Linked DNA regions of Homo sapiens: region 1 is linked to region 2. Evidence: fine-mapped expression QTL. A gene starts in region 2. The other region holds a variant in brackets. All regions are shown on one strand. Distances are between the middles of the regions. Region 1 overlaps NEO1 (neogenin 1). Region 2 holds the start of NEO1 (neogenin 1).

Region 1 (5,384 bases), 67 kb after region 2:
TGTGTATAGTAAATTTATGAAAAAAATACAAATAACTGATAAACATAAAAAGATACCTCTTAAGAATCATTTTAATTTTCTGCCTCTTTTATGTTCAACAGAGAATTTCACTTTGAATGCAGTAACTTAAAGTATTTATAAATCTGATTCTAGGGTTTGAAATAAAACTTTTATTAGATACTCATGTCATTTAACAAGGCTTGTTTATCTCAGGTAGAAGGTTTTTTTTTCCCCTAATGTTCTTCTAAATGGCTCAAAGTTTGGTTTCCTACTTGAAAGTAAATCTTATTTATTAGACATTTGTAGTGAGATGACTATATTTATGTGTCACATTCAAAGAACAACAGTTAATAATTTTTGGACTTGTTAGTAATATATTTTCTGACAAATAATAGAAGAGAGATTTGCTTAACTTTGTTCTTTTTCTTTATTTTTGTAGGAGCCAGCATTCGAACGTTCACTCCATTTTATTTTCTGGTGGAGCCGGTGGATACACTCTCAGTTAGAGGCTCTTCTGTTATATTAAACTGTTCAGCATATTCTGAGCCTTCTCCAAAAATTGAATGGAAAAAAGATGGAACTTTTTTAAACTTAGTATCAGATGATCGACGCCAGCTTCTCCCGGATGGATCTTTATTTATCAGCAATGTGGTGCATTCCAAACACAATAAACCTGATGAAGGTTATTATCAGTGTGTGGCCACTGTTGAGAGTCTTGGAACTATTATCAGTAGAACAGCGAAGCTCATAGTAGCAGGTAAGTTTTAAGTGATTTTTTTTTTTGCATTTTCAAATATTTATAACATACATCTTGATAAAAGCACTGTTCTCTTGGAGTTTTCTTTTAATTAGTAGCAACAAATATACTCATTTAACAGATATCAATTGTGCATATACTCTGCGTATGGGACCTTGCTGTAGGGCTTGCTCAGTGCCGTAGAGAATAAACTGTAGCGTGTTTCCACTTGTCTGATGGCTTAATATTGCTATCAGAAGTACTGAGCAGTTCTTTTCTCCTTTTAAACTTGGAAGTGGCAGAGGAAGTGGTATAGGAAAATTAAATCACTTTGACGGCCAACTTCTATCTTACCCAGCATAACCATTTAGTATGGTTTTGTAAAACTTGCAGTAAAGTCAGAATCCTGGTTCCTTGATGCCTTAACCAAGGAAATGACATTCAATTGGATTAATTGTTTTAAAATCTACAGAGTGTATATTAAGGTGGAGAGCAGAAAGTTATAAAGAGAGGAACTTTCCCTCCTTTTCAGAGTATCCTTATTTGAAGAATGATGGAAAGTGTAAGAAAAATTAGGGATCTTGAAGAGTAAGATGTGGTTTCTAAGTAAGTCATGTCTGTTTTGTAGTAGATACTAGCGTTCCTGAGATAGTGTTTCTTTACTTGAGTACCAGATGAAATAGTTTTTGTGAAGGGTCATGTTATACAAAAATGTTATCTTTAAGTCCTGTATTTACTCTCACCTTGGTGAAACGCCCACGTGTGAGACAGAACCTCAGAGACAGTAGTCTCCCATCTCATTCCTACTCCAGGATTATGGTTTCCCATCTCATGCTCACTCCAGAGTATATTTGCTTATACATTCAGAGCATAATGGCTGGTTTTTTTCCTCTTTGGGGACAAATACTCAAAGTTGAATTTGGGTGTGACAAAGTTTCTGTAATTATTCCATAATCATAGATTGAGGATGGAAAAATAAAAGAAGAAAAAAATGGGTCCTTTTGCCAATTTCCCTTTTCTTTCCTTCCTTCTCTCCCTCCTTCCCTTCTACCCTCCCTTCCTTGCTTCCTTCTTTCCTCTTTTTATTTTTCTTCCTTTTCTTTTCTTTCTTCTCTCTCCCTTAAAAAATAATCTATTTGCCAGGCTTTCTCCAACATGTTTCATAAATAAATTAGTATAATGACTGCCTCTACAACGTCACTTAGGTCAGTGTCTGTTTATAATTTAAGTTCTTAAATATCTCTTATCTGGGCTTTATTCATGGGCTCCTTCCTCTCGGCTGTCCCCCCATATACTATCATCAAATCCAGTGAATTCTGCTTAGTAATTTCTCTGTACTTAATCCACTTTCTCCTTCCCGAGGCTACTCCCAGTCTTCCCTCACCACAGCCTTATAAGCATCTGCCTGCTACCTTATTCTTCCCCTCCTCCAGTCCAGTCTCCACCCTGTCTAGAGTACTCTTTCTCACCCTTCAGTGATCCTCCAGTAACACCATCAAGGTAACATCTAACTCTTAAATAACAGGCCTGTTGATTCCTTTTATGAGCTGTCCTCCACTTCTCCAACCTTATTTCTTAACATTTCACCCTGCCTCTGTCCCCACCCCCGTCCCCTACATCCACCATCACCCTCACCACAGTTTTAAGCACTGGCAGTACTGTTTTGTTTCCTTTCATTTATTCTCTGCCTTCCAGCCTTTGCTCATGGCATCCCCACTGCCTGTTAATTTTATCCTCCACCTTTTCCTCACTTTCTTCTCCTCTGCTAAGTTTGTCCATTCTTCCTCTTTGATACCTTCAGGAAGCATTTTTTTGACCCAGTATCTAAGCAAGCAGCACCGTAGAAGGTGATACATTCTGTGATGACTGCATACAGGGTTCTGTAGGAAAGTTATTTAAACCACTCTTGGCCCTAGGTATCAGGAGTAAATAGTGCCCAAG[C/T]TAAGGGATTAAATAAAAGTTCTTTTAAATAGTTGCATGGTATACATTGTCTAGATATACATACTGTGATTTATTTAAAGATTTCTTTATTGATGAACAATTAAATGGATTAAAATTGTTGGATGTTATAGGCAATACTATAGTGAACTGCCTTCTGCAAATCTTTATTTCTGTAAAACAGATTACTGGAATTGGGATTGCTGGATCATAGGATACACTGTGTGTGTGTGTGTGTGCGCGCAATTAAAAGGTACTAGTTTGTCAGTTCCTCAAAATGTTAACCATAGTGTTACCATATGACCTAGCAGTTCCACTTGTAGGTGTCCTGGGGTAGTTATGGGTTATGCAGAGTGACTGCAAGTGAGTACAAGATTTCTTCCCGGAATGATGAAAAGGTTCTGAAATTAGATTATGGTGATGATTACACAACTTTGTTCATATACTAAAAAATATTAAATTATGTACTTTAGATAGTGAACTTTATGGTATATAAATTACATCTCAATAAAACCTAAAAAAATTCTGCCAAATTGCCAATCTAAAAGACTTAGAGTTTTTTGGTTGCAAGCAGTAGAAACTGATTGTAGCCAAGTCAAGCAAGAAGGGAAGTTTTTGAAAGAACATTAAATAGGTAACTCATAGAATTAAGTATGAGAGGTCTTTTTCTCTGAGCTGTCTCATTTCTCCACAACCAAAATTTCTGTTTTTCTGCCTGGGCAGTATGCTGGCTGTGAGTATTTTGTGCCCAGAGGTGGGGTAATAGGGTGTTCTAAATACAGACATTGTTAATATCTTCTTGTCAACTCCGGGTCTTAACTCCCACTCTCCTTTTTCTCCTGCAGTTCTCCAGAGGCAGCAGGACAACCGGCTTCCTTCTTGGGAGCGCAGGAAGCTGCAGCGTTCCCTGCCTTGTTATGTCAGTTACTAGTCCTCCATCTGCTTTCCCTACTCAGAAATTTTTTGAAATCTCTTGTCTGCCAATTCTCCATATGTTTTTGTGAGCTTACATTTTAAAAATTATTAATTTTCATGAGACCTCAGGAGGAAGAATTTTTTGACTCTTTAAAAATACAACTGAGCTGGGCGCAGTGGCTTACGCCTATAATCCCAGCACTATAGGAGGCCAAGACGGGCGGATCACCTGAGGTCAGGAGTTTGAGACCAGCCTGACCAACATGGTGAAACCCCATCTCTACTAAAAATACAAAAATTAGCCAGTATGGTGGTGCCCGCCTGTAATCCCAGCTACTTGGGAGGCTGAGGCAGGAGAATTGTTTGAACCCTGGAGGCAGATGTTGCAGTGAGCCAAGATTGTGCCACTGCACTCCAGCATGGGTGACAGAGTGAGACTCTGTCTCATAAAAAAAATTAATTAATTAATTTAATTTAATTTAATTTAATTAAAATAGAACCATATTTTGGTTTTATTGATTAAGATTTCCTCCTTTCCCCAACTTGATCAAATTCTGTGTTTATCTTTGTTAATTCTTATCTTCTGATATTCTGGTTTCTTAAAAGTAGATTTTTGGTCAAATCTGGGGAGCTCAAGGTAAAAAAGCAGATTTTTTAGATAATTTTATCTTTATTTTTTTCCTTCAAAAATCCCCTTGAAATAAAAAAAAAATAAGAAAAAGAAAAAGTTTATTGCAGGGCTGTAAAACCTGTGTGATTTATGTTTGGACTAATTCACCATCATAAAACTAGAAAACCTGTAATCATTTCTCATGATTTGTTTGCTCTTCCTTAAAGAAACATATTGTTTTATTCTGAGCATAGCAATCACTTTTTAGATATTATAATAGCTAGTTAAGTGTTTATGCAATATACTATATATAAATTATTTATTTTAAGTACTTTTTTTTTTTTTAACAATCCTGTGAGGCCTGTTATTCTCATTTTACTTGTGAAGAAACTGAGTCTTAGGGAGTGGTTAAATAACTTGCCAACTTCAGACACCCATGAAGTGGTGGTGTTGGGATTCAGATTCAGATATGTGACTTGAAAACTGATGCTCTTAGCTGCTACATCCTGTGGCGTCTATATTTATGACGACATTTTTGGTTCACATTTTATTTTGAGATCATTTTAAACGTAGGGAGTAGGTGCAAGAATAGAACCAAGAAATCTCATATACCTTCACCTAGATTACCTGATTGTTAACATCTTATCGTATCTGCCTTAACCCCCCAAAAATGCATACATCCAAAGACATATTTTTTCGGAGCCAGTAAGAGTAAATTGCAGACAGGTTTTCCTGTAACTGCCACCTAAATACCTACGTGTATATTTCTTTGAAACAAGGACATTCTCCTAGATAACCACAGATGTCCATCAAAATTAGGAAATTAACCTTAATACAATACTACTGTTTAATTTAGATTTCACTGATTATCTCAATAATGTTCTTTATAGTAAAAACCAAAAGCAGAGTACCCGCCTGTCCTCCTCCCACACATACTCTTATTTCTGGCCCAAGATTACATATTTCACTTGGTGGCTGTGTCCTTTAAAACTCTTTAGATATAACTTGGTTTTTCCTTGCCTCATTTTGAGTTTGTTTGATTTCTCCCTGAATAGATTCAGATTCCTCATTTTTGGGAGAAATACCACAGAAGTAATGCTGTGTTCTCAGTGCATCATGCCAAGAAGCATGTGATATTTTGTTCTGTTGCTGGTGATGTTAACTTTTACTACTTAAGATGGTCTG
Region 2 (5,384 bases):
GATATGTGATCAACTAAGCAACATGTGACAAGCAAAATTAATATTGAGCATGCTTGTACTTAAAAAGGAGCACACATCCTTTTTAATTACGCTTAATCAGAGATGGCTCCCTAGAGCAGGTGGCTTCTGAAGGAGAACGGGAGAAAATAAAAATTCTTACCTAGTGGAATGTAAAGGGCAAATATAAAAATAACAATCTCTGTGCAGAAGAAAATCACTTTCTTAAGACTGGGGCAACTTCTAGTTGAAGTCTGCTGTGACTAGGAAGTGTTCTATCCTGAGATCTGCTAGTCAGGGGACTAGCTTTCTTCTTCTCAACCTCGGACACTGGGATTCAGCCAGGGAATCAGCTGCAGAATCTCATTACTGCCAGCAGTTAAACACTGAATTGTACGTCCTTTCTAATGTTGAAAAAAAAATCCTTTTACTATAGAGAATAAGATTCCTACCAAGTTTTATATTCATAGGCTTTAATATTTCATGTAATTTTTATATCAAAATACATTAGCATAAATTTCACAAGATATCAGTCTAGTTATTTTTGGCCTGCATTTCGATAACTTTTACAGACACACAATGGCCACTCTGTTTTCTTTGCTCTAAAGTTTCTTTGTGCACTTATTCCTTGAACATGGGCCTCATGTTCTAACTTTACTTAGATGAAAAAACTGTTAATTTCACCAGTGGTTTAATATCTCTTCATAGATTGATAGTTTAGACAACATAAAAGTGTTGATTAGCAGTATACGTGCAGGCTGAAGTATTTGTTGAAAATCTTGTTGGGAGAATAAGAATGATAAAAGAGATGCCTAAGAAAATCTTTTCTCAGATATGCTTTACTAAACAAAGAACAGGTTAATTACTCAATGATGATTTTTAAAGGGCATGTCGACAGTGTCAGTGACTTTGAAACAAAGTAAAGGAGCTGAATTCAAGTGTGTGCCTGAGTTACTTAACTATCTTGAACTGATTTAGGATCTGTAGCTTTAATCTGGGGCTCCATCTACTAGTGGTTTAATAGAGTGGGTTTTATTAAAATTGTGATTTAATCAGAAGCCAGAAATATACAACTGTTTTAAACTTTTTGATATTAACCTGATATACACAGTGGGCTGATAAATTAGTGAGACAGTTCATATAAGTCATATATGAAAATCAGTCTGTTATTAGCCACAACTCATGTATTTTTCAAAACTTGGAGATAAATGTAAGCTTCATCTCAGAAGTCATATTACACGTTATAGGTTTAATATAATGAAATTTTTCCAGACTTAGAAAAGATATCAGGAAATTAACATTTGCAAGGCAATTTACAGTTTTCAAAGAGCTTTTCTCATTAATTATCTCAGAAAACTGAATAATGATGTGATTATTAAAGGTTAATTAAGCAAATACTTGTGAAGTAATTGGGAGGTAATCTATTTCTAATTTAACAGGTCAATCACGGGTATTTAGGAAATATTTTTGCTGGTTAACAACTCTAACCAAAACAAAAAGGTATTTAAATGGTTTCCCTAGTGAAAAACCATAAGCATGTGTTTCCTCTATTAAGTCAATTGTTTCAAAGAACTAGCATGAGAATTCCTAATTTCACCGTTTTGATGATTTAAGGTTTTATGAAGATTCTGAGCTCTTCCCTCCCGACGTTAATCCATGTCTTACATTGTTCATTTTGGCGCTTTAGAATAAAATATCTTTGGAAAGTAACTATGAGAAAGCACAGAGGGATATGTTAGTGAAATAGCCATTTTCTTGTGGGAAGCAAGACATTTCGGTTATCGACTACACAGAAGAGTGAATAAAACCCAACGCCTATCAACCACCAAACGTGACTCTGCTTGCATAATCATACAAATAAATTTTCTTTAAAAATTTTTCATGGGTGCAGTATATAAAATGATCAATAGTCTCATCAGCAGTGGAACTACAAACTGCTTTCTCCTAACTTTGTGTAGCCTGGGTGCTGCCTCACGATTACTAAGTGGTTTAAAATCATATCCCACTTGCTCCTTGGTTTATCAGCGAAAGACGTGATTCCCAGGTAGGAAAACGCCAAGTGTCCCGCAAAGGTACAGGTAAAACGTAGCAGTTACTGCGAGAAGACTGGCCCCGGGGAGTCCCAGGGCTCGGTCGGGGCCCCCGCACGAGCTGAGGAAGTGGACAGCGGGCACCTTTGTCTGTGCCTAGTTCCCTGGACCCGGGCCGAGCGATGCGGGTGGGGGCGCGGTTCGGGCGGGTCCCGGCGCTGCCCGGGGGAAGCGCGCGGCGACGGCGGCCCGGCTTGGGAGCCGGAGGTCAGCGGCTGCGCGGCCGGCCCCCTCCCACGGGAGCCGCGCCAGGGCCCAGCAAGAGTCGGGCGGGATCGCTATTGTTTTTGGCGAGCACATAAATCCCCGGGCCGACCCACTGCGCACCCAGGTTTCCTCCCGGAGGCCTTTCGGTTTCCTCTGAGGCCCTATATAGAGGCTCCAGGCCCGGACTGTGCAGAGGTGCGCGCCCACGCCGGCCTCCCGGACCAGCCTGAGCTCGGAGCGCCTCTCGCCCTCAGGTCTCTGCAGCCAGAGGCATCTGGGGAGGTGAGGGGGGAATTTGTCCCCGAGGCGAGGAGGAGGAGGCGGGGGCGCGCGGAGCCGAGGGGCTGCGGCGAGCGGGCGGGAGGAGCAGGAGGATCCGCTTCTCCGGGGTTTCCCTGACGCCAGCAGCAGCGCCCGGCGCGCGCGCCCCGCACCCGTCAGCGGCTCCGGGGAGAAGGGGGAGGGGAGCGGGCCCGCCACGGCCCGAGAGGCGGCAGCCGGGATTGGAGCGGGGGCGGGCCGCGCGCGGAGCCGAGGGGGTGCGGGCGAGGCGCGCGCGTGCGCGTGTGCGCGCCCGGGACTCCCGCCCCCCGCCCCCGCCCCCGCCCCCGCCGTCCGCGGTCTCCGCCCCCCTCGCGCTGGTGTGTGGAGCCGGAGTCGGCGGCGGGTGGCGGCGCCTGGAACCTGGAGACCGACCCACCGCCCCCCCCCCCCCGCCCCGGAATGTACTGACTCCCCTTCTTCGCTCTCCTCCCCTCCCCGCCCCCTTGCAGGAGGGAGGCGCCCTGGAGTCTCCCCTCCAGCGAGAGGGGCTGCGCGGGCCGGGCCGGGCCGGGCTGGGCTGGAGCAGCGGCGGCCGCGGGAGCCGAGCTTGCAGCGAGGGACCGGCTGAGGCGCGCGGGAGGGAAGGAGGCAAGGGCTCCGCGGCGCTGTCGCCGCCGCTGCCGCTCACTCTCGGGGAAGAGATGGCGGCGGAGCGGGGAGCCCGGCGACTCCTCAGCACCCCCTCCTTCTGGCTCTACTGCCTGCTGCTGCTCGGGCGCCGGGCGCCGGGCGCCGCGGCCGCCAGGAGCGGCTCCGCGCCGCAGTCCCCAGGTAAGCGGCGGGCGCGGGCCCGGGGGTTCGCGGGGGCGCGGCACCGGCTCAGGCGGCCGCGGCTGCGGTGTTTTTGTTTAGGATCCAGGAGGAAACGTGCAGGAACTTCTCTGCCTCGGCTCCGGTTGCCGAAGAGAAAGGGGATCGCGCGTGGTGGGGAGGAGAAGGGCGAGAGGGGGCGCCACCGGGGAAGGGGCGGCTGCCGGGGGGCAGGTCGGGGGCGCAGGGGTCTAGTTCCCAGCTTTGTACCTGGAGGCAGGTTCACCCCTCGCCTCTCTCCCCTCCCCCAGGCTCATCCCACTTGTAAGAGTGGGACATTCTTGTGCTCACACTAGCACCAGTAGAGGCCACTACACACCTCATTAAATAAACAATCAGACGGCCAATTCATTAATTTTCAGGAAAGGAAAGGGGAGGGGGCTTGAGCTCCTGGTTCCCTGGCCAGGGATTTCCCAGCTTCCGAAGTCTCGAGGAAGAGCTGGCTAGTCTCGAGGGACTCCTCGCGCGGGGATTGGAGCCCGAGTCTGCGGAAGAGCGGGGGTGTCAGAGGGGCACAATTGCCCGCTCACAACCCCTGGTGTTGATTTAACGATGAGGACGCCTTGGAGAGCGGCTCGGAGTGATCGTATCTGTTAGTGTTTCCGTTATGAAATGCCTCTTCTTTCCTGGGGATTACAACTATATTTACAGCCTATTAACCACTCTTAACCAAGGGAATTGTCTAAGCATCAGATTTTAGGTACTTGTACAATGTTTTCAGATGGCATTGTATAAACATTGAACCTCAAAAGCCATTTTCAGTTCTTTTTTGGAATATTATAGATTACTGAAACCACCTGCATTCCTATTAAGGGGACCAACGAACAAAAATGCCAAGCCTTCCGGGAAGGACCTTACGGTATTGTTGAGCAGGATACACTCAGCAGTTGAAAGGCAAATTAGCATGTAATCTGTTAAAATTATTTGACCAAGGTGGTGTACCATAAAACTTGACAAAACTTTCACTCGTGTGAGATATGATATTTTTACATTTGAAAGCAGTCTTACCGCTGAACCAGTACTTGTTTTTCCCTGATTTATATGAAATAATATTTAAAATCACACTGCAAGGTAACTTGACTGATAAACTTTTCATTTCCTTGCAGAGTGTGTATGTAGCTCATGGCTTTTGCCAATGTTAAAGAACAGCTTTAAACGTAAAGTACCACTCGGTATTCTCTAAACAGCTACGTAAACAATAGTGTTTTAATGTCAAATTAAACATCACTTATGTCATGATGTACCCTTATACATTCAGTCCGTATATGGTTTAGAACACATTTTGGTGCTGAAATGCAGGTTACTGATCCAACTGTCTCTTAGATGAGCAAGAGAAATATAACTATTTTGGAAAACAAGTTCCTGTTACTCATGATCTATTTTATATGGAAATTCATATGTAGTTCACCAAATTTCAAGTTTTTGTTTAAAGTTTTGCCGATAATTTTGTAAGTAACTAAAATGCTAGTAATTTTATTACTTAGGATAATAAAAATAATGCAAGCAGTCTCAGGAAGTGGTCTTAACATCTGTTTCAACATTAACTCAATTGACAGGTTTTTATTTTGCACAGATGAGGTGCAAGGCATATGCTCTCTGCCTTCATGGAGTTTACAGTCTGGTGTGTGGGTAGGAAAGATAGCCATCCATCTACTGATTATATAATTAAGTAATTGTGATAAGCACTACAAAGGAGAATAGGTTTTCACAAAGTGGGTACTGGAGTGACATAACCTAGTCTGGGTGTTAAGAGTGTCTCACAAGAACTGAGATCTGAGGAGTGGGTAGGAGTGGAGGTGGGGAGGCTCACAGGTAATTAGTCGTTTAATTGGGTCTAGAACATAGATCTCCTGATTCTCGGTCCAGAGTCCTTCCTGTAAACCGCTCTGCTTCATTACAAAAGCGAGAGGAATAACTGCAATAAGGAGGGGTTGGTCAGTTCTGCCATAAAACTGC

The links. PIP is the estimated chance that this variant, and not a neighbour inherited with it, causes the effect. A credible set is the group of variants that fine-mapping cannot tell apart.
Region 1: its variant is the best candidate, but not a certain one, in a credible set for the expression of NEO1 in whole blood (INTERVAL, PIP 0.74).

Annotation. Positions count from the first base shown.
Region 1 is chr15:73,116,101-73,121,484 of GRCh38, forward strand. It overlaps NEO1 (neogenin 1), which reads left to right. Exons shown (of 29, transcript NM_002499.4): 2 at 440-757. Among named protein-coding and RNA genes, the nearest start is that of NEO1, 66 kb to the left of the region's middle. The variant C/T (reference allele first, on the strand shown) is at 2,678.
Region 2 is chr15:73,049,417-73,054,800 of GRCh38, forward strand. NEO1 (neogenin 1) reads left to right here and starts at 3,047. Exons shown (of 29, transcript NM_002499.4): 1 at 3,047-3,389. The coding sequence starts at 3,260. RefSeq lists silencers at 2,167-2,216, 2,277-2,346, 2,437-2,756, 2,987-3,366.